7 separate regions of the Homo sapiens genome follow, and regions 2, 3, 4, 5, 6 and 7 are each reported to be linked to region 1. Evidence: microRNA targets listed by miRTarBase, many of them from high-throughput screens and not tested one by one. Region 1 holds a microRNA gene; each other region holds the end of a gene's coding sequence.
The links. Region 1 holds the annotated microRNA hsa-miR-1306-5p (CCACCUCCCCUGCAAACGUCCA, at 2,001-2,022, opposite strand). A microRNA usually pairs through its seed, bases 2 to 8, with sites in the 3' UTR of a target mRNA and lowers its output. Matches are read on the target gene's strand: a 7mer-m8 pairs with bases 2 to 8, a 7mer-A1 pairs with bases 2 to 7 and ends in A, and an 8mer does both.

Region 2: miRTarBase lists KLHL7 as a target of hsa-miR-1306-5p. Seed matches in the 3' UTR shown: 7mer-m8 at 2,536-2,542.
Region 3: the mRNA of ARFGEF3 is a reported target of hsa-miR-1306-5p. Seed matches in the 3' UTR shown: 7mer-A1 at 1,198-1,204.
Region 4: the mRNA of DIAPH1 is a reported target of hsa-miR-1306-5p. Seed matches in the 3' UTR shown: 7mer-m8 at 1,605-1,611.
Region 5: miRTarBase lists IFNE as a target of hsa-miR-1306-5p. The part of its 3' UTR that is shown has no 7-base or 8-base seed match.
Region 6: the mRNA of LMTK2 is a reported target of hsa-miR-1306-5p. Seed matches in the 3' UTR shown: 7mer-A1 at 874-880.
Region 7: the mRNA of TLNRD1 is a reported target of hsa-miR-1306-5p. Seed matches in the 3' UTR shown: 7mer-m8 at 2,236-2,242.

The regions. Positions count from the first base shown.
Region 1 is chr22:20,084,094-20,088,093 of GRCh38, reverse strand. It overlaps MIR1306 (microRNA 1306), which reads right to left and starts at 2,036; the gene lies at 1,952-2,036. It overlaps DGCR8 (DGCR8 microprocessor complex subunit), which reads right to left. Exons shown (of 14, transcript NM_022720.7): 2 at 1,411-2,407; 3 at 773-932. The coding sequence starts at 2,130. It overlaps MIR3618 (microRNA 3618), which reads right to left and starts at 2,348; the gene lies at 2,261-2,348.
Region 2 is chr7:23,173,923-23,178,000 of GRCh38, forward strand. It overlaps KLHL7 (kelch like family member 7), which reads left to right. Exons shown (of 11, transcript NM_001031710.3): 11 at 93-3,992. The coding sequence ends at 376. Among named protein-coding and RNA genes, the nearest start is that of NUP42, 6.1 kb to the right of the region's middle.
Region 3 is chr6:138,335,829-138,339,906 of GRCh38, forward strand. It overlaps ARFGEF3 (ARFGEF family member 3), which reads left to right. Exons shown (of 34, transcript NM_020340.5): 34 at 467-4,078. The coding sequence ends at 658. Among named protein-coding and RNA genes, the nearest start is that of SMIM28, 40 kb to the right of the region's middle.
Region 4 is chr5:141,513,511-141,517,588 of GRCh38, reverse strand. DIAPH1 (diaphanous related formin 1) reads left to right here. Exons shown (of 28, transcript NM_005219.5): 28 at 581-2,568. The coding sequence ends at 738. LOC124901091 (a long non-coding RNA gene) reads right to left here and starts at 581. Exons shown (of 2, transcript XR_007058971.1): 1 at 1-581. RefSeq lists enhancers at 300-925, 926-1,551, 2,178-2,803, 2,775-3,024, 2,804-3,429 and 2 more.
Region 5 is chr9:21,477,821-21,481,898 of GRCh38, forward strand. It overlaps IFNE (interferon epsilon), which reads right to left. Exons shown (of 1, transcript NM_176891.5): 1 at 3,019-4,078. The coding sequence starts at 3,874. The coding sequence ends at 3,248. All of the region lies in intron 1 of MIR31HG (MIR31 host gene), which reads right to left. Among named protein-coding and RNA genes, the nearest start is that of IFNE, 2.5 kb to the right of the region's middle.
Region 6 is chr7:98,204,743-98,208,820 of GRCh38, forward strand. LMTK2 (lemur tyrosine kinase 2) reads left to right here. Exons shown (of 14, transcript NM_014916.4): 14 at 722-4,078. The coding sequence ends at 750. Among named protein-coding and RNA genes, the nearest start is that of BHLHA15, 4.7 kb to the right of the region's middle.
Region 7 is chr15:81,003,096-81,007,173 of GRCh38, forward strand. It overlaps TLNRD1 (talin rod domain containing 1), which reads left to right. Exons shown (of 1, transcript NM_022566.3): 1 at 1-2,693. The coding sequence ends at 265. Among named protein-coding and RNA genes, the nearest start is that of TLNRD1, 4.2 kb to the left of the region's middle. RefSeq lists an enhancer at 1-503.

The DNA of each region.
Region 1 (4,000 bases):
CGCACCCTGCCACCTTGTGCACCCCAGCCCTCAGCCTGGGGTCTCACCTGTGAGCCTGAGTCCCCGTGCATCTCTTCAGTCCCTCTACCGAGCCCCACATCTCCACCAGGACCCTCATAGGTGCCTCCAAGCCACCAACTCCGACTCCCCCAACACCTGCACCACATCGATGACAGAGCCTCACAGTGCAACTCTGGGCGCCTCTCAAGTGCTCTCCCCACTACCCTCAACTCAAAGTTGAGGAAGTGCCACGTCGACCAGGGCACTTCCACCCTGCCCAGCTGAAGTGCACACACCATGCTGTGGCCCAGAAGCCATGTTGTTAAACAAAAATCAGGTAACACCACTTGCTTCTGGTGGCTTCCTGTGACACTTGGTCCAGGACTAGAACCTGGATCACAACTATCACCTGCCATCTCACTGTGTACCCACCTTGCCCTTGGTCTCCACACCCTCCAGCTGATGGTCATGCTGGCTCCTGGCATATACCAACATCCCCTCCTGACCCCCTCAGAAGTCCCCTCCCATTCCTCTGCACAGTGCCTGCTGCTCTGTGGTTTCCATAGCACACACCAGGATCCGCATCTGGGTCATGCATCAGGACGTCCTCCCATCCTGTGTTTCCCTCCTCAGATATTTCTGTCCTGTCCTCAAACATGCCTCCACCCAGCCCACTACCTGGCACCAGAGCTCTCTCAAAGCATTTCTGCTAAGGAAGCAACCACCCCTCCACTGCCCTGGAACACCCACTGCTTCTGACCCACACACGTACTTTTGAGCACTGTTTTAATCTTGGTCATCATCGGCTGCACACTTGTCTCTCCATCGGACGGATGGTCGCTGTCTCCGCCATATTTTTCCTCTGTTCGCCTCTTTTTGGGGGCACAAAGGCCTTCTTCCAGCAGAGCATCCACATCGTTGTCAAAGTCATCCTGCAAAACACGCTGTTCAGACACCAGAGCCCCTGGCGCTCATGCTCCTGCAACAGGAGAGCTCAACAGCATTCCTGAGAACAGACACAGAAAGGAGGTGCTCTCAGGGGGCCTAGATGTGCCCTTAGGGTGCATGATCATCTGAAAAACAAACAGGATGAAGCTACCAGCTGACACCAACACACCTGGTCCAGGGGCACACACTGCCAAGGAGCGTAACTCAGCAGCACCTGCTGCCCCACGCGCTAGATCAGGGATGCAGGGCCTACCCATGGGCCAAACTTTTCATTAGGAAACTTTAAAAATCTGGACTCCTTACATCTTTCTCTTCTCCACATTAACATTATTCCACCTCAGAGGGGATTTTGGTTTTTGTTTTTTTTTTTTTTAATTTCCCTGCTTTCAAAAGATGCTGCAATTCCCAAATCTCTCTTTGGGTTTTGCTAAGAGCCCTCTAGAGGAGGGGCTGCCAACATACCTCGTAGGGGAAATTCAAGGCCTCTTCATCCACTCTGTCTCTCTGAACGATTGCTTTAGCCGTGAACCCGCCTGCTCCTTCTTCATCTAGCTCCAAATTGTCAGTAAAATCTTCTAACTCATCGAGCACTGCATACTCCACTCTCTTTTCCTGATCCAGCTCATTCTCCTCATCCTTCTTATCAGCACTCTCACCCCCTATGCCTACCCCGTCACCAACACTCCCGCCAAAGGGACAAGCATGCACGTCCCCACTGACAGGGCTAAGGAGCAGACCGCACTCCGCCCGCACGTCGCGCTCTGCTCCTGTGTACAGCACCTTCCTGTCCTTACTCCTGCAGCTCTCGGTAAAGCTCACGCTAATCTTTACATCCTTAAGCAACTTAAGGTCAGGGGAGAACTTCCGGACCGCAGGTGCGTGCCGGGCGGTGCGCGGGCTGTGGCCACTACAGTTCGGGTCTATGAGGAGGCGGCCCTTAGAGAAGGATCCTTTGGAGAGAAGAGAAGCTCCGTAGAAGTTGAAGGGGTCCTCAGCAGGGAGTTCGGACTGTCCATCACCACCAGAGCCAACGTCCATTACCTCTGCACCACTGGACGTTTGCAGGGGAGGTGGTGGAGACTGCTCACGGGGCAGCGCTTGGAAGGGGCGAGCTCGGCTCTCCATCACCGCTTCTCCTGCGGGCCCACACGGGAGCGGAGAGGGGCTCTCATCTGTCTCCATATTAAAAGCGCTTAAGACTAGTTTACAAGACCAGAGTTTTACAAGCCCTCACATAAATCTACACAGCTAACATGCACAAGTCCGCTGAGACCCGGGCGCGTCCTGCCGCGCTGTGCGCTGGCGGCTTAGTCAAGCTGGCCACATTGCTCTTTTCATTAATGTAGACAGCTTTTAGAACCACTGCCTCAATTATTGGAAATCACAATGCACTCAGCTTAAGTGACTGGCGACTAAGCGAGTCTGTCTTCATGCCGGAGTGGCACCTTTCTTCTTCTACCTGCAAAGAAATTTAAAAATATCGTCACAAAATGACAGAAACCTTCCAATTCCCTGGTACCAAGTTAAAAGCCAAGCACTATTAACAGCATAGTAAAGGGCTTCAAAATAATATTCCCTAAGAGGACTTTTTAGGCATCAAAACAAACTAACCTTACTTTTATTCTTCAGAACCTGAATTATAACTTAAGTCCAAAGTTAAATATTTTGTTAATGCCCACTTTAATTCCTACTTCAGAAACACAAAAACTATATAATCATAAGGCTCAAAAAATATTTTAAAAATTTACACTAAACTCCACCACAGCATTCTTCTAACTCAGATAAGCAAGCATGCAGTGGGAGGCACCCTTTCTGGAACACACAGAAGGCGCGTGGCCTCCCTCAGGCCACCAGAGCACAGCAATCCACTCACCTGCAAGGGCTGGGTCAGTCAGAGGGCGAGCGCGAGACCCTCAGCTCAACTCTGCGGCACTAGGGGCCTCAGAGGCATGGCCAGGCGCTCTGCTACCCAGGGACCCCAGGGCTCTCCTGGGCCCACAGGGTAGCACGTGGACGGGGACAGTGATGCAGCGTGCTGAGGTCACCAGAGGTGGCAGCATAGTTCTGTTCCCGATGGAGGAGAGGGGTGGGTGGCTGTGGGGAAGGGACCTGCCAGGATTTGGGGTGGGGAGCCACAAGAGACAGCTGGAGCCGAGGCACAGAGAGGCCTGGGTGCCACCTGCAGCCCGTTCCGCCCTGGGGACAATAAGGAGCCACTGAAGGTGAAGCGACTCTCATGCCACAAGTAGGTTCCTACTTGAGAGGGGAGACCCACAGCTGTGCCAGGCAGAAGCAACTGCATCCAAGGCACGGGGACAGTCCTCCAGGCCAGAGGACAAAGGTGTGAAAGAGGCCCTGGCAATGGGCCAAGAACAGTGTCACAGAACTGACCGCACTTGTTGACCCAACGGAGGTGGATAGCAGAGAAAAGAGGGAACTAAAGACAAGGAAGGACACCCAAATTCCAGCATGCAGGCAGGAGCCTGGCGAGGAGAACAGAGGGGACCTCCAGGCAGGCTCTGAAGGTGCCGAGGCCACAACTCTGGAGCCATGACTGGTCCAGATACGGAAGGCCAGGACGCACTGAGGAGGTAGTCGCCAAACCCACAGGAGGAAGGCCACCCAGAGATGAGGGTTAAGGATGCAACTCTAGGAAGCCTTACTACAGAGGAAGCATGAAGAAAGGGACAACATGAAGCAGGGAAGATGGGTCTGAGGGGGCAGCCAGAAAACCCTGCATCAGAGCAGAAGGAACACATGCAGACACACGCACATGCACACTCCCACAACGTGCACAGGAACACGCATGCATGCACATGCGTGCATACCAGTAAAGATGCACACATGCAAACCGCACTGCATGACCTAACATCCTCCCAAGATTCCCGGAAAGAACAGGAGATGCAGACATCACACATTTAACAAGGGACAAGGCATGGTGGATGTACTTCGAAGGGGACACAACATGAAAACCAGAGACTAGTTTAGGTTTAATCAATACATTTAACAACTATCCACTGGCCATCTACTCCGAGGAACGCACTATATGGAC
Region 2 (4,078 bases), not on the chromosome of region 1:
AATATTGGAAAAATACAAAAAGTTATTACTTTAAGAAACCTTAGAATTGTTGATATAGTTTTTCATGTTGTTCATGTTTTATTCTTTTGAAGGTGGTCTGGACAATGTGGAATATTACGATATTAAGTTGAACGAATGGAAGATGGTCTCACCAATGCCATGGAAGGGTGTAACAGTGAAATGTGCAGCAGTTGGCTCTATAGTTTATGTCTTGGCTGGTTTTCAGGGTGTTGGTCGATTAGGACACATTCTCGAATATAATACCGAAACAGACAAATGGGTTGCCAACTCCAAAGTTCGTGCTTTTCCAGTCACAAGTTGTTTAATTTGTGTTGTCGATACTTGTGGAGCAAATGAAGAGACCCTTGAAACATGAAAAATGAGTGGACTTCAGACTCATCAGAGACTCTAAAATATAGCCACCAGTGCTTTGTTCCAGGAGTTTGGTGACAAAGTTTTGGTTTGGTGTTTTGGTAAAGAAAGTTTCAAGTGAAATGAGGTTCCTATAAAATAGATGTTTCTTTTATATGGATTTCCTTAATTCAAAGATCATATTTTAGCTGGCCACAAAACCAAGAACATATCTAGCAAGAAAACTTGAAAAAGTATAAGCATTTGTTAAAAATGTGAATTTCTTGAATGAATTTCACATTTGTAACTATGATTTTGGCAGAATAGAAGATTGGCTCATCAGTGAAGCGCAGTATCTTAGCTCTAGATTCTATTTTCATGCATCACAGAAGTGCTATACGGTTAGGTCTGTTTGTGCTCAGTCAAGAACTAAGAAATAGTATGAATTGTAAGTCAAGATGGGCAACTCAGATGGAGCAGCTTAGTCTCACAGTTTGCTTGTCTATTTATTTTATTTAGTGCCAAATGTATTCCATTTTAAAAGTAAGCCAGAGTGAGTCAAGGCATATACACACTTTCTCACAAAACTTCCTAAACAGATTTGGGGGTTTAATATGTCCAACTCCTCATGAAATATATTCAATCCACTTAAATATATTCCATCTTTTTAACATAAAATGTAAAGCTTAGCACCCATCATTAATTTATGTCTCTGTTTTATCCAGTGGTTAAAAAAGGATTCTGCCTCTTTAGTCCTCACTGTTAAATAAAACCCAATCATAGTAAGTGATTAACTAGCAAAAAGTAAAGCTATTTATAGCAAATTTCTAGATCATTAGAAAAGCACTGGTAGTTGTACAATATCAGTGTTGACTTTGAACTTCTTTAACGAGATCATGAATTCTTTTCCCTTAGCCAAAACATGAAATATTTAACCTAGTTGTCTCTAAAAGTTTTGTAATCATGAGTTAGATATATGTCATCTCCTATTCATTGCTTTTATGTGATCAATAAATCTTTTACAAACCCAACTACTCATTTCCTTCCTAGTAATACTTTGCCTTTTTCACTGTGTATGGAATGAAACATGTAAAGCTGTCACAATCAATGTTTTTATCTGATAATATTAAATATTTTTTAACTTAAAATAGGCCACTCAGTTTGTTCTTCAAGTATTTTAGGTAATGGTTGTTTTTAGAATTTGTGAACCAGTGTCTCTTAATTTTCAGTTTTCTTTATATAGAGGTTATAATAGTCTTAAACCCTAAAAATGTTTAAATCAAAAAGGAATTAGGAAAAACATAATGATAGGTATATTTCTATTTGTGTAGGGTTTTTTAATGTACAGCTTTATTGAGATATAATTCACATACCATACAATTCACCATTTAAAGTATACTATTCAGGCCAGGCACAGTGGCTCACGCCTGTAATCCCAGCACTTTGGGAGGCCAAGGTGGGTAGATCATTTGAGGTCAGCAGTTCAAGACCACCCTGGCCAACATGATGAGACCCCGTCTCTACTAAAAATACAAAAATTAGCCAGGCCTGGTGGTGTGCACTTGTAATCCCAGCTATTCAGGAGACTGAGGCAGGAGGATTGCTTGAACCTGACAGGCAGAGGTTGCAGTGAGCTGAGATCAAGCCACTGCACCCCAGCCTGGGCAACAGAGCAAGACTAAAAAAAAAAAAAAAAAAAAAAAAATGTATTATTCAGTGGTTTTTAATATATCCACAGAGTTACGCAACCATCACCACAATTTTAGAACATTTTCATCACCCCAAAAAGAAACCTTGTACTGATTAGCAATGGTTCCCTATTTCCCCCAACGCCCCTGTATTTCCTAGGGCTACCATAACAAACTACTGCAAACTTGGTGGCTTTAAAGAACAGAAATTTATTCTCTCACAATTCAGGAAGCCAGCACTCCTAAATCAAGTTGTCAGCAGGGTTAGTTCCTTCTGGAGGGTCTGCAGCAGAAACCACACATGCCTCTCCCCTAGCTTCTGGTGGTTGCCAGCAATCCTCAGCATTCTTTGGCTTGTAGCTGCAGCACTTCAGTCTCTGTCTCTGTCTTCGCATGGGCTTTTTCCCTGTGTGTCTCTGTATCTTCACATGGTGTTCTTATAAGGACAACATAGGAGCCAGACACAGTGGCTCAGGCCGGTAATTTCAACACTTTGGGAGGTGGAGGCAGTAGGATCACTTGAGGCTAGGAGTTCAAGACCCTGTCTCTACAAAAAAATAAAAAGTTAGCAGGTGTGGTATATACCTGCAGTTCTAGCTACTCAGAAGGCTGAGGTGGGAGGATCACTTGAGCCCAGGAGTTCAAGGATGTAGTGAGCTATGATTGTGCCACTGCACTCCAGCCTGGGTGACAGACTGAGACCCTGTCTCATTAAAAAAAAAAAAAAAAAAGCTGGGCGCTGTGTCTCACGCCCTTAATCCCAGCACTTTGGGAGGCCGAGGCGGGTGGATTACCTGAGGTCAGGAGTTTGAGACCAGCCTGGACAACATGCCAAAACCCCGTCTCTACTAAAAATACAAAAATTAGCCAGGTATGGTGGTGTGCACCTGTAGTCCCAGCTACTCAGGAGGCTGAGGTAGGAGAATTGCTTGAACCTGGGAGGCAGAGGTTGCAGTGAGCTGAGATTGCGCCACTTCATTCCAGCCTGGGTGACAGAGCAAGACACCTTCTCAAAGCAAAATACAAACAAAAAAAGGACAACATAGGGCCCGCAATCCAGTATGACCTTATTTTAATTACACCTGTAAAGACCCCATTTCCAAACGAGGACACATTCTGAGCTTCTGGATAGACATGAATTTGGGGAGATGCTGTTCAACACAGAAAACCTCCCAAACACCATAGCCCTAGGCAACCACTAATCTACTTTCTGTCTCTAGATTTGATTATTCTGAACATTTTTAGTAGGGTTTTCAATTTTGCACTCTATTGAAAAATGTGGCTAGTTTAATTTTTTGAGAGTGAAATATCCATTTATTATATTACAATATAGCTATATAATTTGACAATCTCCTATGTAGAATATACAGTACCTGTCTAAGATATTTTAAGTACACCAGCATTTCCTTTTAGGCTATGTCAATTGACTAGAACACACTATAGTAAATACATACACAGGTTTGATGTGGATTATAATGAAGTGGTTTTTTTCCTTAGTAATCTGTATCATAATTCCCAATTAGTGTCTTTTTCTGCCTTGGAAATTTCTACAGAATTGTCAATATCAGGATAGTGCGTAAAAGTACACTCACCATACTGACAAGCACATTTTCTATTTTGTTGCCCAAAACTCCCTGTCCTGTAAAGTGCTCTGCTTGCTTTTTAGTAGACATTTGATAAGTTAATGTTATATCCTTTGCAATGATATTATTTTGATGACAAAGTAAGTTTATGCTTTCAAAAATCACAATTCGGTCAGAAAAGTTTAGCATCTTAAAAAAATTGTTGCTATTTGAAAAAAACAAAACAAAACATATACTTGTGACTTTGTGGTCCAGCTGGCAAAAACTTGACATATCATCCCATGAAAATTTTAAGTCATGAATTATTTTGACATGACAATATTGCTAACAAAATCAAAATCAGCCGTTTAATAAACAATTATTCCACCAAGCAGTCTATATTCCTTTTGCCATATATACTGTTAACAGCAAAAATTTTGGATTTGCTACATATGCATGGGTAAAGGAGGTATTTAG
Region 3 (4,078 bases), not on the chromosome of region 1:
TGGTTATGCCAATGAATTTTTTTCAAATTGTTTTCATCTCAAGTTTTTCTAGCCCATCCTGTGCACATAAAAATTCTCATTCTTCAGGGAGGCTTTGAGTGTAATTCTATGGTGCATCAAAAAATGAGTTTGAGATTAACGGCCTGTGGAGATCTCACTGTGAGAAGGCAAGGGAGGTTTGTTGTTGTTGTTGTTTTTAAATCTAAGGAATAAGTAAGAGTTTAGTAGTTTGTGAAAGCTGAAAATAAGGCGAGTCTCTGCCCATCTTTATGTATGTGAAGTTATGATGTAGGCATAATAAATTAATACGCCTACAATTTATTATAGGCATATTAAATGAGTGAAAACTAATTTATTGCAACTAAAGCCTGGAAAAAAACCATTTCCACATTGGCAGGGCCACTCTCAAGTGTTCAAATAAAACCAGGGGGGAAAGCCACTGATTTTCTTAAATCTTTTCTCTTAGGCATGGACCAACATGGTGCTAACAGTTCTCAATCAGATTCAGATTCTCCCAGACCAGACCTTCACGGCCCTCCAGCCCGCAGTGTTCCCGTGCATCAGTCAGCTGACCTGTCACGTGACCGACATCAGAGTTCGCCAGGCTGTGAGGGAGTGGCTGGGCAGGGTGGGCCGTGTCTATGACATCATTGTGTAGCCGACTCCTGTTCTACTCTCCCACCAAATAACAGTAGTGAGGGTTAGAGTCCTGCCAATACAGCTGTTGCATTTTCCCCACCACTAGCCCCACTTAAACTACTACTACTGTCTCAGAGAACAGTGTTTCCTAATGTAAAAAGCCTTTCCAACCACTGATCAGCATTGGGGCCATACTAAGGTTTGTATCTAGATGACACAAACGATATTCTGATTTTGCACATTATTATAGAAGAATCTATAATCCTTGATATGTTTCTAACTCTTGAAGTATATTTCCCAGTGCTTTTGCTTACAGTGTTGTCCCCAAATGGGTCATTTTCAAGGATTACTCATTTGAAAACACTATATTGATCCATTTGATCCATCATTTAAAAAATAAATACAATTCCTAAGGCAATATCTGCTGGTAAGTCAAGCTGATAAACACTCAGACATCTAGTACCAGGGATTATTAATTGGAGGAAGATTTATGGTTATGGGTCTGGCTGGGAAGAAGACAACTATAAATACATATTCTTGGGTGTCATAATCAAGAAAGAGGTGACTTCTGTTGTAAAATAATCCAGAACACTTCAAAATTATTCCTAAATCATTAAGATTTTCAGGTATTCACCAATTTCCCCATGTAAGGTACTGTGTTGTACCTTTATTTCTGTATTTCTAAAAGAAGAAAGTTCTTTCCTAGCAGGGTTTGAAGTCTGTGGCTTATCAGCCTGTGACACAGAGTACCCAGTGAAAGTGGCTGGTACGTAGATTGTCAAGAGACATAAGACCGACCAGCCACCCTGGCTGTTCTTGTGGTGTTTGTTTCCATCCCCAAGGCAAACAAGGAAAGGAAAGGAAAGAAGAAAAGGTGCCTTAGTCCTTTGTTGCACTTCCATTTCCATGCCCCACAATTGTCTGAACATAAGGTATAGCATTTGGTTTTTAAGAAAACAAAACATTAAGACGCAACTCATTTTATATCAACACGCTTGGAGGAAAGGGACTCAGGGAAGGGAGCAGGGAGTGTGGGGTGGGGATGGATTATGATGAAATCATTTTCAATCTTAAAATATAATACAACAATCTTGCAAAATTATGGTGTCAGTTACACAAGCTCTAGTCTCAAAATGAAAGTAATGGAGAAAGACACTGAAATTTAGAAAATTTTGTCGATTTAAAATATTTCTCCTATCTACCAAGTAAAGTTACCCTATGTTTGATGTCTTTGCATTCAGACCAATATTTCAGGTGGATATTTCTAAGTATTACTAGAAAATACGTTTGAAAGCTTTATCTTATTATTTACAGTATTTTTATATTTCTTACATTATCCTAATGATTGAAAACTCCTCAATCAAGCTTACTTACACACATTCTACAGAGTTATTTAAGGCATACATTATAATCTCCCAGCCCCATTCATAATGAATAAGTCACCCTTTAAATATAAGACACAAATTCTACAGTATTGAAATAAGGATTTAAAGGGGTATTTGTAAACTTTGCCCTCCTTGAGAAATATGGAACTACCTTAGAGGTTAAGAGGAAGGCAGTGTTCTGACTTCTTTAGGTGATCTGAAAAAAACACCCTTATCATCCAGTGTACCATCTAGAGATCACCACAGAATCCATTTTTTTCCCAGTTCCACAAAACACTCTGTTTGCCTTCAGTTTTTACTCACTAGACAATAATTCAAGTTTAGAAACAGGTAATCAGCTATTTGATCTTAAAAGGCAATGAATTGTTGGGATATCAGTGAACTATGTTGTATACTTTTGAATTTTTACATTTTATAAATGGAATTGAAAGTTGGATAACTGCTTTTTTTAAATTTTCCAACAGAAGTAACACCACAGTTGCTTTGTTTCTTTTTATAGCTTACCTGAGGTTCAGTTCTTCTTTGTGAACCTGTGAGTACTCCACAGTTTACTGGGGGAAAAGGCTTCAGTAAAGCAGAGGCTAGAATTACAGTATTTATACATAGCAACTTTTCATAAAGTAGAAAAATTCAAAGGAAGCTGTCTCAATTTGAGAATACCAGCTGGGCACGGTGGCTCACGCCTGTAATCCCAGCACTTACTTTGGGAGGCCAAGGTGGGCAGATAACCTGCGGTCAGGAGTTTGAGACCAGGCTGGACAACATGGTGAAACCTCGTCTCTACTAAAAATACAAAAATTAGCCAGGTGTGGTAGGATGCACCTGTAATCCCAGCTACTTAGGAGGCCGAGACAGGAGAATCGCTCGAACCCAGGAGGCGGACGTTGCAGTGAGCCAAGATTGCACCATTGCACTCCAGACTGGGTGACAAGAGTGAAACTCCATCTAAAAAAAAAAAAAAAAAAAAGTGAATACTGTATCCCAAAGTATGTTAGTTGTTTGTTTGGAAATCAGCATTCTCCCCGATGCTCTATTATGGGATCCAAAATTCTTGAACATAAGTTTACCCTGTACTGTGTCCAAACACTGTTCTAGTTCTAGCCTGATTATGGGTCCCAAGAATAAAAGGATGAGTAGGTGTACAGAGCTCTTGACCTACAATTTTTTAAGAGTGTTTTGGTACCTTCCCATTGTCTTCTCTATAACTCAGTCCTAACATACTCTGCACTCGAGTTACCAGCCATCCACACTGACATCAGATTTCAACCAGAACCATCACTGAGTGACAGCAGTACTTCTCAGAGGTATTTGCAGCTTGATGCAAAGTAGTCTCTAATGAGTAGGCATTCAGGTGGTTCTTCCCAGCAGGTGGAGAAGAAAGGGAGGAGATGAAGAACACTGAGAGGGGAGTGGCACCTTCCCAGGCTGCCCAGCTCAGTCTCTTGCCCTGTTCCTGTGACTCAGCTGCCCACTCCCCCAACTTTGTTTCCCTCCCTCCCAGTCTCTGAAAGTGTCAGGTGTTTCTCTCCTCACAGTCTCTTTTGCAGCAACAGTAAGACAAAATTCAAGGCAGCCTTTTAAAGTTACGAACAGTTATTAGCATGTATTTACAGACCTAAGCAGAATGAGAGTTTATACATTGTTTTTAGTTGCCTGTATTTATAGCCAAAAGTATATTACCTTAAAGTTGAGATCTTTCTCTTCTTTTCCTAAATTTTGGTAAAGTGTGCTTCATGAAACAAACATCTGGAAAACTCCAAGTATAAGAGACCCTGGACTGATGATGGCCCAGCCAAGTATATGGAGGGACAGAGTTCTCTCTGTCATTAATGAGGACATCGGTTTTCACAATTGAACCTCATGCACTGTCCACAGCATCTCACCTAGCTCCTGTATCTCCTGATCTGCTTTTAAAAATAGTTAGTTAGGCTGCCTTTTTACACCACCTTCTCTCTCTCCCCTTGTGGTAATTTTCCAGCCTTCCCCATAGATATAAAACTAGAACACCTTTATGATTTGGGGTCTATGTAATGACTGACCGATAAGAACCCAGG
Region 4 (4,078 bases), not on the chromosome of region 1:
AAGGCATGTGGGCATCTGTTGTTGGAGGAACACGTGGGAGTGCGGTGTCAGTGCGTGGCTGCTGTTCCTCTTTGCGGGAGTCTCTCCAGCCACTTACGGAAGGTTGCCTTCTGCTAGGGACAACCCTCCCAGGGCTGACTGAGAAGTGTTTTGGCCTAGGAGTTTCCTGGGACCTGTCAAGAAAACAAAAATAATACTATGTACTAAACTTTAGTCTATTTAATTCCAACATCCCTATTACGAGAAAATAGACTTTGAATACTTCATCTCTCCTTAAGTCACATAGCTAACACTTCAGCCCAGTTCTGTCTGTCTGTGTTCAAACTTTTGTGCTGTTTTCACACAGGGAAGCAAGGGGGCAAGGCTTGCTTTCCTGTTGCACCACACTCTCTTACATTCTTTGCCACCCAACAATATATTCCACATGCTGGATCTCTGCCCCTTTCTTCAAAGTAAGGGCCTCTGTGAAGTGGCCAAGGTAGTCATGTCTGCATGGCTTACGCTGATTATCTGCTGTAGAGTTTGAAAGAAATTAGAAATGAGGCCTTCCATAGACAGAATCTCTCGTCTTCTCTTGCAGCCAACAGGAAGGCCGGGTGTGCAGTCACATCTCTGCTAGCTTCGGAGCTGACCAAGGATGATGCCATGGCTGCTGTTCCTGCCAAGGTGTCCAAGAACAGTGAGACATTCCCCACAATCCTTGAGGAAGCCAAGGAGTTGGTTGGCCGTGCAAGCTAATGTGGGTCCTGTGACCGCGGCAGCTCCTCAGCGGAGCCGCAGACTGTCCTGCCCTGCAGCATGTGCCTAAAGGCTCAAGGGGATATTCCTCTGGGGTGGCCACTCCCACCACCCTGACCCTGTCTTTCTCTCTGGCCTGCTGCTCTCTCAACATCACATACAGCTTCAGCTGCCTGGAGGCCAGAAGGAAAGGGCAGTGCAGGGGAGGCCTGAGCCCGACTTAGCCAGCCCTGGCTGTTGTATTACCAAAGCAGGGTCCATGTTTGCTGCCTTAACCCTGTCTCCTCTCTGTTACTCAGAGGGCCTCATCTCAGACAAGGCCCAGCCTGCTTTTTCTCAGCCCTGACTTTCTAATGGGCTTTCCCCCCTAGGTCAGTCTTGCTGGATTTGTGCTTTTCTTTTGTGGTTTCTCTGGCCCTGAGAATAGCATGGGGCTTGTAAACCTTTGGGCTAGATCCCTCCTTTCATTGCTGTTGTCTCTGCTCTTCCCTCTCCTGGCTGTGGTTATTTATTATTAGTGGTGTGGCACTGGGAGCTGCTCCTAAGGAAGCAGGGAGCAAATCCCACCTTTACCCCACCTTCCTGGGAAAGGCCTCCAAAGCAAAGGATCTGGACCAGTTTCCCTGCTGTGCTGTGGCCCAGGCCAGAGCCTGTGGGCAGGCAGGCAGGGCATAGCGACAGTGTGGGACCTGCCCCCAGCTTCTGCCACGCTTTATGCCCTTGCCTCTCTGGACGCTCTGCACCAACCCCAGGCTACTGAGCCACCTTCCCTCCTCATGCCTTCCCTGAGCTTTGGTGCATCTCATCTGGACTATGGGTTGTACTGTGACCATCCCAACACCTCACCCTCTGTCTACAAGGAAATGGGAGGTGGAGCCTCCTGGCTGAGAAATTGTTTTGCAAATGGATCTATTTTTGTATGAAAAAAAAAATTTTTTTAAAGAAAACTGTTCCTTCCCCCTTTCCCCTCCATAATGTAAGAAGCTTTGGTGGCAGGTTACAGAGTTCTGGGATTTCTTCTCACAGGCCCAATCCTGAATGTGCCCCTGGACCTTCTGGACCCTTGAGTCCAAGGCAGATCCTCTCTCCCAGGGAATCCGACACAGGAGGAACCCCTTCTCTGGTTGAGCTGGGCCAGGCCTAAGAGTAGCAGGAACTCTAAGACCACAGAGTTTTTTATAAATGTATAAATGTATCAAGCCAAATGTGCAGATGCTAACTGGACATTCTGGGGAACTGGGCACCAGGAGTGCCTTCATACACTGTACCCCAGCTCTCTTCTAAAAGAGAAGTGGGTGGGCACACTGAACTGTTTGGTGGCCCCAACCACAGGAAGCTGCAATTCTCTGGCTTAGGGTGATACTTTTGCCCTCCTTGTGCCCCTCTCAGCTTTCCATCCCCAGCTAGGAAGAAAGAATGGCACTCTTGGGCTTGGCCCAGAATTAGAGTTATTAGAGCAAGAGAGAGCTTAGGAAGCATGAGGGCAACTATAGTGAGGCCTTATTGCCAGGAGGGAGGGTTTTGGTTGCTGGCGCTTGTGTATAAAGGGGCAAGAGCAGCTCCTTTGGACTATTCCTGGGAGGACTCTGATGCAGGGCGTCTGTTGCTCCCCTGGGTCACCTCCTCCCTGCTCGCTGACATCTGGGGCTTTGACCCTTTCTTTTTTAATCTACTTTTGCTAAGATGCATTTAATAAAAAAAAAGAGAGAGAGAGAGAGGTGTGAGGGACAAAATGCAAACCTATTTCCCTTGCCTCATAGGCTTCTGGGATGTCATCACCTCCAGTTTGTTGGTTTTGTTTCCAACTGTTAATAAAGCATTGAAACAGTACTGCCTTACAGCTTCCTGTGTGAATTTCTGAGCTGTTTTCTTTTCACTCTAGTCCAGGCTCCTCTAGTCTTTCCTGCCTCAAATCCCTGGTTGACCTGACAAATCACTGTGAAAAAGCTAAAGGTGCCAGACACTTTACTTGGGCACAGGGCTAGAGATGATTAATACATGGTGGCTGCTGCCCCACCAGAGCTCACCTCAGGGCCGTTTGGCCACAGTAAAGGAGTGGGCGCCTGGTTCAGCTCCCTGACTCTTCCACATTGCTGCTACTTGGTTTGGAGCCCTTTTTTGGAACTCACTTGGAACCTTTCATGTTCCCAGATGTCACGCAAGGTTTCCTGGCAGTACCTGTGTCTCTTGCTGAGGGAAGCATCTGGCTCCCATTTTCTCATCCCCTCTGCTCTGTTGGTGGCCACAGACCACATTCCAGAGTAGAGGGGTTTACCCTGGGGTGGAAACCTGAGCCTGCCCAGCAGAGGTTGGGAGCCTGAGGTCATGCTCCAGATGACTTGCCACTTGGAGCCATACTTGTCTGAGCACGTTATGACCTGCACAAAAAAGCCAGACCAGCAATGAGCAGGCCCAGGATAGACAGGGAGAGGCCTGGAGAGGACCACAAACCCATTCGGGCGGGCTCTGGAACTGGAAATAAAAGCCTTTTAAATAGCCCTGGAGCCTGGGCAGCTGCCTCCTCAGTATGGCCTGAGGTGTGGGGATGGGTTGCCTGCCGCCTCCCTCCCGTCCCCCCGGAGGCCACGCCTTTCTGGTTCAGAGCTTTATAGGCACACATACCAATTAGGGGACAAACCACAGCTGCTCACGCGCTCTGCCAGTCTGCTGCTGTGCCTGGAATAGAACCCAGGCGCCCGGCACCCCGCCCCTCCGCAGCCTGGCTCTGAGTAACAAAACCCTGCTTCCATCTCAGCAACCGTGCACACCACCCTTCCTCCCACGCTAGAAAGTCGCCCCCAGATTCTTAAGTTGGAAGGTTTGGTTCCCATGACAACAGACTTGAGCTGGCAGAATGGGTGACCTGGCTCTGGGAGCCTCCGCAGCGCGGAGGAAGCCGCATACCCTTGCTGACCAGCCAGATAACCGCAGTGGCTCTGTCTTTGTGTTCTTGGGTCCTTCCGGGTAGTTCCCCTTTTAAGTCCCCCTTCACCCCCAGCTCCGTGTTTTTCTGCAGCTTCTCTGGCTGCAGCAACCTCGGAATCCCACAGTGCTTCGAGGAGGCAGGCGGAGGGGGCGGGGAGATGGGAGAGCAGGCGAGTGAGTGGAAAAGCACCGACAGGAAGGAGGGAGGGGAGCTGAGTCTGCGATGGATCTCATTTCCTGCACGTCCTTTCAGTCCCCTTGACCCCCGCAAGAAGAGGATGAGCCCTCCAATTTCTTAGGCTTCGCTACGGAGATGTCAGCGGGAAGGCGAATTCCAGATGGGGAAACTGAGGCTCGAGCTGCAGACTTGGCTTTGGAAGAATCACCTCCCGCATTCCCTCCCACTCCCGCGGCT
Region 5 (4,078 bases), not on the chromosome of region 1:
GAGATGGGATCTCACCATGTTGCTTAGGCTGATCTCACACTCCTGGGCTCAAGCAATCTGCCTGCCTTGGCCTCCCGAAGTGCTGGGATTACAGGCATGAGCTACTGCACCCAGCCTGTTCTTTTTTTAAATTTCAAAAATATAATAATTTTTTTTTCCTGGTTCTAAAAGGAATCCTTATTCATGGGAGAAATATTTAATCCAAAAAGTTTAAGTGAATGTAAATTCTATCCCAAAGACAGTAGTACTATGAACATTTTCATGCATTTCTTTTCATATACTTTTCATGAATGTTTTATTTGTAGAAAATATGATGATGCTGTTATTATTTTGTAACCTGCTTTTGGATTTAATGATTTGTTTAGCTCAATACATATAGATGTAACAAAAATATAACTCAGCCTGCAAATACAAATGAACCTACCCATACTCCAAGCCTTTCCATGTGCTACTAAGCCAGGAGTCCAATCTTTTAATACGTCTCTCCTTCCCAATATTCCCAAGTTTAGAACTCTGGTTTTGGAGTTTTAAAAGGGCACACATATTTAGAAGTAACAATTTTTTATTTTGTGCTAGGCATTGAGGTGGTTATACAACAGGATATCAACTTAATAAACCTAAATGTTTGGGAAAACATTAGTATATAAAGTATTAGTTTAAACTTCTAAATATGAGTATTATTTTCTAAACGTTTCCATTTGACAGTTCCTCCATTCTGTTCTCAGTTCTTAAGGAAGCAATGTCAAGAGAAAGGAAAATATCTTTTCTTTAATTCAAGACTTCAGAGACCATTGTAAACTTGAATAAAGAAAGCTAGGAGAAAATTATTATTATTGTTATTATTATTTTGCAGTGATATTTCACAATGCTATTCAGGTTTGAGTTGTCAACAACACAGTGCAGGCTTTTGAGTCAGGCTGACTTGGGATAAGATCTTTGCTCTGGTATCTGCAAGCTCTGTGGCTTGCTACATTACTTTGAGCATGTTATTTCACCTTTACAGTCTTGTTCTCACTTGAGAAAAAAATAATTACAGAAGGCACTTGGTAAGGTCAATTTGAAAATTGGATAATGTGTTAAATGAAGGATTTGGTTCCAAAAACTTCCTGGTTTAAAGAACAACAAAAAATTTTCTAGACCATGAGAAGAAAAGTAACTTATATTTGCAGTTCCTTGTGGTATTTCTCCTTCCTCCACTTCACTACCTTTGTGTGAATTTGAAGGTAAACAGATCAACCCCTGGCTGCAATGTGAAGTCAGCAAAGACTTGCTTCTGATTGACAGCCTCTGCTTCCTTACCCTTCTTCACTATTGCAGGTGACTGTCTCACTTTCAGGATCCTATTCGGTTCCTACTCTTCCCTTTCAAACCAAGTCTAAAGTAGCAGCCATTACTCATTTGCATTAATTAAACTGAACTGGAGTATGCTTCGTTCCTAAGTTTTTACATTTACTACTAACTTTTACCTCCAATTATGCAATGCATCTGACGTAGAACATGACACATGGTAGTAGAACTAGCATCAGAGTTTTGGGCTGTGGCTCTGCTCCCTTACAGTGGACGAAAGTGGGATAGCCACCAAGCCTCAACTTTAGTTTCTCTGCCCCCACGTTGTTCCGTGGTGACTTCTGAGAGTTCCTGGCTAGAAGAGCTGGAATCCCTCCATCACTGGCATCTCCCAGGAGCAGGAACCCTCTCCCTTGGCACGGGTGTGCTTCTCTCCAGCCCTCCTCCAAGCAGACATCCCAACCAGGGGCAGGCTAATTCAGTCTCCTGTTCCTTTTGACCTTCACCAGCCAGACTCCCTCATGCATATTTCTGATAACTGTGACTCGTTAGATACATTTTAAATTATTATCTTAATATGTAATATTCACACAATTTAATATAAAAATTTTTAGAGGAGCTATAAAATCTCTCCCACCCTAATCTCCTTCTTCAGTCTTCCTTCTTCTCCTAAATACAGGTAATCATTGTAATTTATTTCTTATTCTTTATTTATACACAGTAAGGACAAACGTAAGTTTTATTTAACATTTTCACCCCAAATGTAGCATTTTATGTACACTGCTCTGTATCTTGCCTATTTTCAACTTTTTAAAAAGAAATACCGTCTCATTTGTTTCTCCAGCTGAATAGTGTTCCTTTATATGAATATGCCTCAACTGTCTCTAATTAGGAAAATCGAGATGGTTTCTTGACTTTTGGTATTACTAATAGTGCTGCAGAGAATAATATTGTTTGTAAGTTATTTCACACGTGGGCAAGTTTTTGTTGTTGTGGTTGTTGTTGTTTTGTTTTGTTTTGAGATAGAGTCTCACTCTGTTGCCCAGGCTGGAGTGCAGTGGCATGATCTCGGCTCACTGCAACCTCCACCTCCCAGGTTCAGGTGATTCTCTTGCCTCAGCCTTCCGAGTAGCTGGGACTACAGGTGCCCGCCACCATGCCCGGCTAATTTTTGTATTTTTAGTAGAGACAGGGTTTCACCATATTGGCCAGGCTGGTCTCGAACTCCTGACCTTGTGATCCACCCTCCTCAGCCTCCCAAAGTGCTAGGATTACAGGCCTGAGCCACCACGCCCAGCTGTGGGCAAGTATTTTTATAGGACACATTTCCAGGCCTAGAATTTATAGATGAAAGGCTACATGCATCTGTAATAGATATCACCTAATTGCCTCCATAGTGGTTGTACTATAAATGGCATGCATGCTATTTAATTTGTATTTCTATTATCATGAGTGAGATTGAACCTCTTTTAATGTAGTTTTTTTTCTCTGCAAACTGTTCATGTCCTTTCACCATATTTCTATTGTGTCTCCTGTAATGTAAATATTCACTGTGTAATAATATTTTCAAATCTTAAAATGCAAATTATTCCCAATATTTCTCATTGTCTCTAGCAATTTCTGGCAAATAAGCAAATCATTGCAATGGAGTTCTATGTTAAGGAAAGTATTTTTACATTAGTGGCATATTTTATTGTATCTACCCAGCCAGCCTGTATGAAAATACACCCATTTGAAGAATCAACCATATTAATGAATTTATTTTGACATACAAACAATTTAAAATGGATAGAATATATAAAGCCACATTACAAAATAAAAACAATTGTGGTCAATATGCACAATCTTAAAACACAGATAAATATATATATACACAAAATCAAAGCAATGTGATTGTACTATAAATTGTATTACCACTCTATGAAGAATCATGTCTGGAGAAGTCCTCTAGTCCCTCCACCTACCTCGGGCTTCTAAACTCTGTAGTAAGCTCTTGCTTCATGTCGTTCAAGGGTCTTCCTTGTTTGCTCAGTTTTTCTGTGAGACTGAACACAAAGAACAGACATCGGCTGATTTCTACTTGGACAATGGCCCAGGCACAGGTGCTGTAGTCCTGGTTTTCCAGGTAATCATGGATCCTTCGGAAGTACATTTTAACTTGTAATCTAAGGTTATCACTACCCAAAGTACCACTTAGCTTCTCTGCTTCCAGTCCCATGAGTGCTTCTAGGTATTCTAGCTGTTGATGAAGTTGAATGAGGAATTTCTCCGTGTGGTTTTCCTCCCAACCATCCAGAGAAATATTTGCCCTGAAGAGGCTGAAGATCTGCTGAAGCATCTCATGGAGAATGGCCAGAGTGTGTCCTTTTTGGTACTGCTGAGGACTCAAAGACTTCTGAGGAAGCAGAAAGTTTTTCCTGTGTGGTAGACACTGCTGAATTGACAAGGTTTGCAACTTATTCAAGAGTTTTAAACTTTCTTGATTCACTTGTCTTTGCTGGAAGATAATCAGTTTCAAATCTAGAGAGAAGATAGTGGTAGAGGCCAGCAGCACCAACACAGTTCCAAAGAAGTGCTTGATAATCATGGTGAAGGTCAAATATGCTACTTATCCCTGCATAGACTTAGGGAAATTCCAGCTCTAGTGAATGTTTGCCTTTCATGCATCTCAGATTATTTTGGAGAGTGTTCTCTTTTGTTGCTTTCGTTTTCTAATGTCATTTCTCCAAGTTTACACATTAGATTTTCAGGTTCCCTTTTCATGGTGTTCAGAGTACATTTTCTCCATTTC
Region 6 (4,078 bases), not on the chromosome of region 1:
AGAGGGGCTCTGGGTCCCAGGAACGCCCAGGCTGCGCGCCATCTCCTCTTTTTCTCCTGTGGCTGCATAGTCCCTCCTCCGCACTCTGTCTCCTCCTTTCCCAGAGAGAACCTGCTCTTCAGCAGGCTCGTAAGAGCACTTGACCCCTGGACTTGGGACCAGCCCACATGCCCTCTGGTGCTGCCCCTGGAATGTTGGTTTTGCTGCTGAGTCTTGGTCCTGGTGTGGCTCCCGAGGGCGGGGTGGGGTGAATGGGCAGGGGCCATTTGAAGTCGAGGTATCTGAACATAGGGAGCCTTCTTTCCCCGTCACTAGATTGAAAGATAAAGGTTAATAGGCTCATTTTTTGATTGGAAGTTTACAGATCAAATAATAAATATGGAATACAAAGAGGCTTTATTTCCCTCGGCGCTAGGCTTCATTTGTGCCGATTAGATAACACCTGCTATCTGCCAGTCTGTCGGGGCAGATGTGTGGATCCCAGCTGACTTCTTCTGCACCCTGACCCTTAGCGCCCAGCGGGCATTTGAGCCTAGCAGATGTGGGAGAGTCAGGCAGGGGCTGCTTCCGAAGGAAAGGACAGGAAGGGCGGCTCAGGCGGTGCTGGGCTCAAAACACCCGCTTCCGTTCCTGTGGTGCAGCGCACATGCCATCCACGCCATGCCTGTCTGATCATTTTAAAAACCCAGCTTTGTCGTCTCGCTTCCTCTCTCCTCAACAGGAAGCAGCGAAGACGGAGAAAAGGACTAGGTGGCTGCCAACGCGCACGCTCGGGTCCGAGGCTGCTCCCCTGGAGCGGCGCCCCTGCGCCCTCAGCCCGAGCAGCGACATCCACTCGCCATTTGCTGACATGAGATTGGGAGGAAGAATCCAGAGGTGAAGAGGGAGACGGCTCTTAGCTGCGTTCAAGGCGGGGCCCTCGGGAGCCCAGGTGCAGAGCGAGGCCGTGTCCAGGAGCCGGCGTCCCTCAGTGCCCCGTGCACCCGCGGCCGCGGCCTCCCAGGCAGTGCTCATGCGCTGGCCGTCGGGGGAGGCAGGGGCACAGCCTCCATGTGCGCGCGCGTGTGGAGCTGTGTGCACCGCATGTGTGCTTTCCACAGGGGCGTCTCTGCGTCCACGCCTGCACATCCCGGCGCACGTGTGGGCACCACAGAGGACACGTGAGGGGAATGGTCACCAGTGAGCCATATTTATTATTTCTAGAGAAATCACGAACTGCTTTCTGTAATTGCACTGTGGATAAATGTTCCGAGAGTCTCCATTGTTGTACAGGATCTTCAGTTATTCGAGGGGAATGAGGCAGGTCAAGCCGATGCTAGCCACTAGTTTGATTTTTTTTCTGTTTTATAGTTTGCGCTGCATGGTACTTGTGAAGCTTAAATATTTTGAGTGTTCTACTGTGTCTAGGATTGTTGGGATTGTACATATGGTACTCTTTCATAAATGATAAATGATTCTGAATGTTAGTGTTTTATGTTCATATAGGAAATATTTTCATTGAGTCCAAAATACCACTGTTTTGTTGATGGACTTGAATGCATTTTTGTCTCTTCTTGATGAAGCGGCTTTGCCGCAGCAAATGAGGCTTCTCTCTGAGGAGCTGAGAGGTCTTGCAGCCTCTCCTTGTCATTCTCCCACCCCACATCCCATTTTTTAAAGCCCTTTTGGTAAAAACCAACAGGTTGTGGCCGCAGACCTCAGATGGACCCGGCCCATCCCTGGGGACGTGCTGGCGTGGCAGGTCCAGAGAGCTGCACCCTGCACGGGGCACCGCACCGCTTCCCTCCGCGCAGCTCTTCTGCCTGGTTTTCGGAGGCCAGGCTGCTGGGAAGCTTCCGTGTTCCTGTCAGTCCTTCCTTCAAGAAGCCGGGGAACTCAGGCAGACTCATCTCCGCAGAGCATACCAGCCGTGGGGGACCGTTCGACTTGATGATGTGTGCACACTTCAGGTGGTGGGGACTTGAGCTTTAAAAAAACCTCCACAGCCGAATCTTCTCCTCCGAGCCACTCCACGTCACGTCCAGCTGGGCCTGGCCAGTCTGTGGTTATCCATGTGGGATGAGATAACACCACATCCTGCAGCTGTGAAGGGGGATGGACAAGGGACGACGGCCGACGGCAGAGCATCAGCAGCCGACACATAGTTCGGGTCGGGGCCTTGGGTGGTCCTGCATGGCCCGGGACTCATCTCACGGACCCTCCGTTCTGCATTAAGCCCCAGGTTCTCTTCTGGCTTTGAAAGGGCCCGAGTGCTCCCAGTGTAGCTTCGTCACATCGTCACGAGCCCCTGTGGTCATGGGCGACCTCACACCTCCCTCCCTGAGTTCTGCTCTGACATAAGGAAGTCCTCGGTGGCTGGTGCAGCGCGGCTGTGCTGTGCTGGGGAGGCAGCCGTTCCTTCGGGGGTCCTTGGGCCTGCAGTCCCCTCATACTCACCCTTCACCCAACATATTTTCCGGTGCTGATATGTTTCCAGACTCCAGCGCAACCTGGGGTGCTCTCCAGACCCGTGCAGGGGCCGCCTGGGGTACACGGAAGGAAGTTGAGTCCTAGTGCAAAATGCAGGCGGACGTTGCCAGAGAGTGCGCAGCAAATGACCTTCATTGCCAGTTCCACCCTACTCCTCTCATTTTTTATACTAAGCAATAACTTTCCAAAGCAAGAAGTTCAGGATGGAGAGAGTCCCCTCCTGTGTAGGCATGGGGTGGATGCGGTGCCCACCTGGGCTATGTGGGGAGCACCACTGTCTCGGGATGCGCGAATTTTTTTTTTTTTTTTAATTAACAGGGCATTAGAAGATGATTTTGCCAAAATTGTCATGACTCTGAATTCTTGCTGTGGGGACTTCCTGAGTTTTCTCAGTTTTTACATCTAAGATTAGTCTTGGCTGAAGAGAAATGAGACGTGATTATACTACTTTTTCAATTGCAGGTTTAAGGAGTTCAGATTTAATGACCAAAGTCATACAGATCATGGAATCTGTCGTCGTCTTATACAGTGTCAGCCTCGAGTACATTTATTAACCTTTTGGGGCTGTCAGTTTTCCACTAGGATTAAGATTTTGGCCGGGCGCGGTGGCTCACGCCTGCAATCCCAACACATTGGGGGGTCGAGGCGGACGGATCACTTTGAGCCCAGGAGTTCAAGACCAGCCTGGGCAACATGGCGAAACCTCGTCTCTACTAAAAATACAAAATATATATATATATATATATACTAGCTGGGGCACATAGTGGTGTGCACCTGTAGTCCCAGCTGCTTGGGAGGCTGAGGTGGGAGGATGGCTAGAGCCCAGGAGATGGGTGTTGCAGTGAGCTGAGACCATGCCACTGTACTCTAGCCTGGGTAACAGCCAGACCCTGTCTCAAAAAAAAAAACAATTTTTTTCATAACATAATTCCCATTTTTATTTATTTTGAGTCACTCATAATTAATTGCCAAAAAAGCATTTTATACATTGAGTTGGGGGGTAGTGGATCTTAGTGTGGTGTTGCATGGAGGGGCGAGATTTTATATTTATAATCAACACGTGGGTTAACATGTTTTTTTGAAATCCAAGCAATACACAGGAAATTTAAGTAGAATAAAAATTGCAGCCCATTTTTGAAATGTCAGCATGTGCTGTGTTCAGTTCAGGTTTTTGTTGTTTGTTTTGTTATTTTTTAACTAATAAGTTGGTTATCAGTGGTGGGTTTTCAAAATGTACTTGTTCTAATAAGTTGTACAATGAACTAAATCAGTGGCATTCTCTAGATAATGTGGGGGAAGGTTAGAATATTTTCTGGCCTTCTATGGGGTAGCAACCCAGAATCAATCTGAATTAGTCCTGTTTTGGTGGAGTTTGTACATTTTAAATCCTATAACAAAAATAATCTAGTTTTCATTTCCTTACTAGCTAGATGCGAATTTGTCTTTTTGAATGACCCTGTCAATAAGCCAGAAAGGGCAACCCAGAAAAAGTGCTCCCCACATCCTTCTGAGACTTGGCCTGTGTGTGTGGACGAGAAGCCATTCACCGTAAGGGTGCAGAAAGCTCGACCAAGCCGAATTGCAAACAACGTTCGTTCTATTTTTAAAT
Region 7 (4,078 bases), not on the chromosome of region 1:
AGCTGTGAGCGCCGAGGGCAAGGCGGTGCAGACCGCCATCCTGGGCGGCGCCATGAGCGTGGTGTCGGCCTGCGTGCTCCTGACCCAGTGCCTCAGGGATCTGGCGCAGCACCCCGACGGGGGCGCCAAGATGTCGGACCACAGGGAGAGGCTGAGGAACTCGGCCTGCGCCGTGTCTGAAGGCTGCACCCTGCTATCTCAGGCTTTAAGGGAGAGGTCTTCGCCCAGGACTTTACCGCCAGTGAATTCCAATTCTGTGAATTAGCACCCCACCCCCATACCCCTTCTTCCACCCCCAGACTAAAGGAAGATACTTACTCTCTGCCCCTCTCCATTTATACCAAAGAAATCATAGGTGAAACCCCCTACCCTCCCCAACGTTAAATGCTCGAGAGGAATCTTCCACAAGGCAGGGCCATGCACGCAACCTGCACACGCACTTGGAGGGCCCAGGTGTCTCTCCACCAGCCCCCATGCAGTAGGGACTGGAAGATATGTCATCTGCTGGTTGTGTTATCACTCCCACCCCCTACCCCAGCCCGTCTTCCGGAATTTCTCAACTAAATTTCATTATTGGGCAGGAAGGAGGTCATGGGTTCATTTCATTTTTGTTTTTTGTGTTTTTAATTAAAAGAAAGGTTACCTCAGTTTTCACTCCTTAGACATGGATGTAGCTACCTTTTTTTGTATGTCTTTTTTTTTTTTAAGCAATCGTGTTGAATTAGGAGTATACTTGGTGTGGAAAGAGTATGAATTTGCCATGTGATTTGCAAATGGGGGGAAGCTACTGTGAGCGTGTGTTTTTTTAATTTACACTATAGAGTGATTTTTTTTTCCCCCAACGTCAAGTTTTTACCTTGCATGTACTGGAGTATTTATTTCATCTATTAAAATGTTATGTTTCTCAGATGGCTTTTTGCAATTATTGTTGATTTTTCAATAATTGTAATTTTGCATGCTGCATGTCATGTATGGGAAGGGTCTGTGGGAAGGCTATTTCAATAGTAGTGAGGCGGGCCCCCAATTCCCAGCCCTTTCTACTATTTCCTCAAGAAAAAGTACTGCTCAAGAAGTACTCCCTTGAGCAGCCTGGAACTGAAGAGAGGACTATGTGTAACGTTCTATTTTAAAAGGCAGGTGACACAAATGGGATTGGGTTATGTAGAGTGCTTGGGACGGTTTTGTCTCATTTTTCCTGGAAAGTGATTTAGCTCCCTTTGTCTCCACTTACCTTTCCATCATCATGAACAGTGGCTCAGGCTGCTTGAATTCTGATTTGTATTCTGCCTATCATTTTCAGATTAAATCCTAATCCTGTGTGGTATGCCAGCCTTCCCAACTCAGAGTCTCTGGATGGAACTCTAAAAGTACTGTACATCAAGTGAGAATAGTTAGCATCTTTTATGTACACAGGTCTATTCAGACAAGATCCTCATGATTTCAGAAAAAATATAGAGAGGGTCCTAGACTGCTTAATAGAGGAAAGAAGTATCCTGGAAAGCTTGTTAAGAACGTTCTAGAGCCACAACATGATTGTAGGCCAAGGGCTTGTTTTTGTGACCTTGATCTAAGATAATGCCATGGTTGATTGTATGTTGGAAGAATCTTTGATTGGAATTTGGAGTAATATTAAGGTAGTTTGTCTTTTCTGCAGACATTTTTAGGAGTCTTTTTGTGTGAGTGGTGGTGGAGTGTATAGTTTTGTTGAACCTAGTTAAATTCTGAATATCTTCCCACTAAAAGCACAACAAATCTATTTACAGTGCCTGAAGCCTGGGAGAGCCACATGAGTAAAAACTCGTACGTGGTTTAGATTTGTTCCATTTACATTTTTCTTGGGATTTGTTGTGCTTAAACCTTTGCAGTTCCCACAGATCTGAAAAGAAAGCATTTTTCACTGTAATACATTAAGAGAGAGAGAAAAAAGTCATATTGACTATTTTACTTGTTTGAATCGCTGTTTTTATTACAATGACATGAAATACAACGTGTAAAAGTCTTTAACCTGTGTTGGGTAAGGGTAGGACTGTTTCACCACCCTGAATTTGAAATTTGAAAAAGTCTTAAAGTGGTAGGGTACTTAAATTTTTAAAAAAATGACCATGGGAGCAGTTTTTCTCTGTTAAATCCTGGTAAACTTCGGGTTTTTGAAGACTTTAAAAGATGAAAATGACCTTGAGCATCTTTATTCCTTTCCTCTGCCCCTTAATGTTGGGATGGGGTTCAGGATGAAAGGGAGGTGGGATTCTAATTCATGTGCCAGTGACAATCCTGCATGCATATAGAAATTTTTATTTATTGAATGTACACAAGTAATGATGGAGTTTGATTATATGGTTCATTTTCATTTATCCTATGCAGATCACAAAGAGTAAACTGAAAGGAACAAACGCTAAGTAAAATAAGGGCCAGAAATCTGTAAATTTGGTATTAGATTAAGAAAAAAAGAATTGCCAGTTTTTTCCTGGACTCTTTCCTTGCAGAAGCGATTTTCAGGACAACTCAAGCCAATTAAAAAAAAGAAAATCACTTTCCCTATCTGTTTGGATGAAGTTAACTAGCTAGTCACTAAGTGAATTTTGAAACCTCTTACCTAAATGATAGCTGCTCTTGGTGTTTCTTTATGCTCTACGTTTGGTCATGTAACATGCATAATCTCTGTTCTCTGAAGTTGATTAAAGTTCTAAACTTAAGCGTTTTCACTGCTCCTGCACCCCCCACCTCCCATTTATAACATAAAGTTCAGGGCTTTTCTTCCAGCAGGTGTCTTGAAGTGAATTCTGCTTGTACTTTTTTTCTAGCAGATTTCAAGAAGCCAGAGTGAGGAATGCTAGGCAAGGGGATTGGGCACAGGTCTTTGACATTTTAACTTTTCTCTAATGTCCCAGGTTGCTAAACTTGTTTTTTAAATAGCCCCTGATGTTTAAAAAAAGCAGCGTCTCAGACCTATTTCATAATAGGGTTTAATAAGGTCAGCAGAGATACTGGTTCCAGGAATAAAATCAGAGTGGCCTGTTTTTTTTGTTTGCTTTTTAATTTTTAAACTAGGGTTAATTTAAGACATTAATCCTTGGGTTCTTCTGACTCCTGAGGGCAAGTTTTCTTACACAGGCTTAATGTGCATCATCTTGACCAGGGAATGTTGAGAACCTTCTTCCTTTGAATGGTCATGAGAAAAGGAAATCATGATTGCTAAGTTCTTTGAACAAAAGACATTATTTATGATAGTCAACTCAGTAAATGGAACAAAAACAGTCTTTCAAACATAAGACTTAACCAGAAAAAAGCACAACTCCATCTTTCTTTGCCTGTTTTAAGCATAGCATTTATGGGTGATGTTAGGAAACACAAAAATTATGTGTGTGTATTTGCTTTCTTCCGCACCCCCACCATCCTCATCTGATTGGTTATTTTACACACACTTTTTTTTTTTTTTGAGAGGGAGTCTCACTCTGTCGCCCAGGGTGGGATCTCGGCTCACTGCAAGCTCCACCTCCCGGGTTCATGCCATTCTCCTGCCTCAGCCTCCCTAGTAGCTGGGACTGCAGGTGCCCGCCACCACGCCTGGCTAATTTTTTTTTTTTTTTTTTTGTATTTTTAGTAGAGACGGGGTTTCACCGTGTTAGCCAGGATGGTCTTGATCTCCTGACCTCGTGATCCACCCGCCTCGGCCTCCCAAGTGCTGGGGTTACAGGCGTGAGCCACCGCGCCCTAACTTTTTTTTTTTTTTTTTTTTTTAAAGCTGGCATGGGGATTTAAAATATTTGGCAGTTTGGAACAGCTAATTTTAACAGAAACACCTGTTTTTCCGAATGAATGTGACTATGGTAACATGCAGATCAGGCAGAGGATTTGAAAAATGACTGCCAAAATTCTTTCTGAGCTTTGCTGAGTGAACGTGGAAGGATTTAGAGAAGAAATCCTTAAAGATTTAGTAGCATTTTCACCTGGGACTGTTCCCTGGGCTGCCTTGTGGTTTGCATCAACTGGAAGAGGCTTTAAGGAGACCATCTCTGAGTTTCCAGTGTGGGCACAGGTATTTGTGTTCCTCCCTGGCAAATTCTTGTCTTTACTTAAT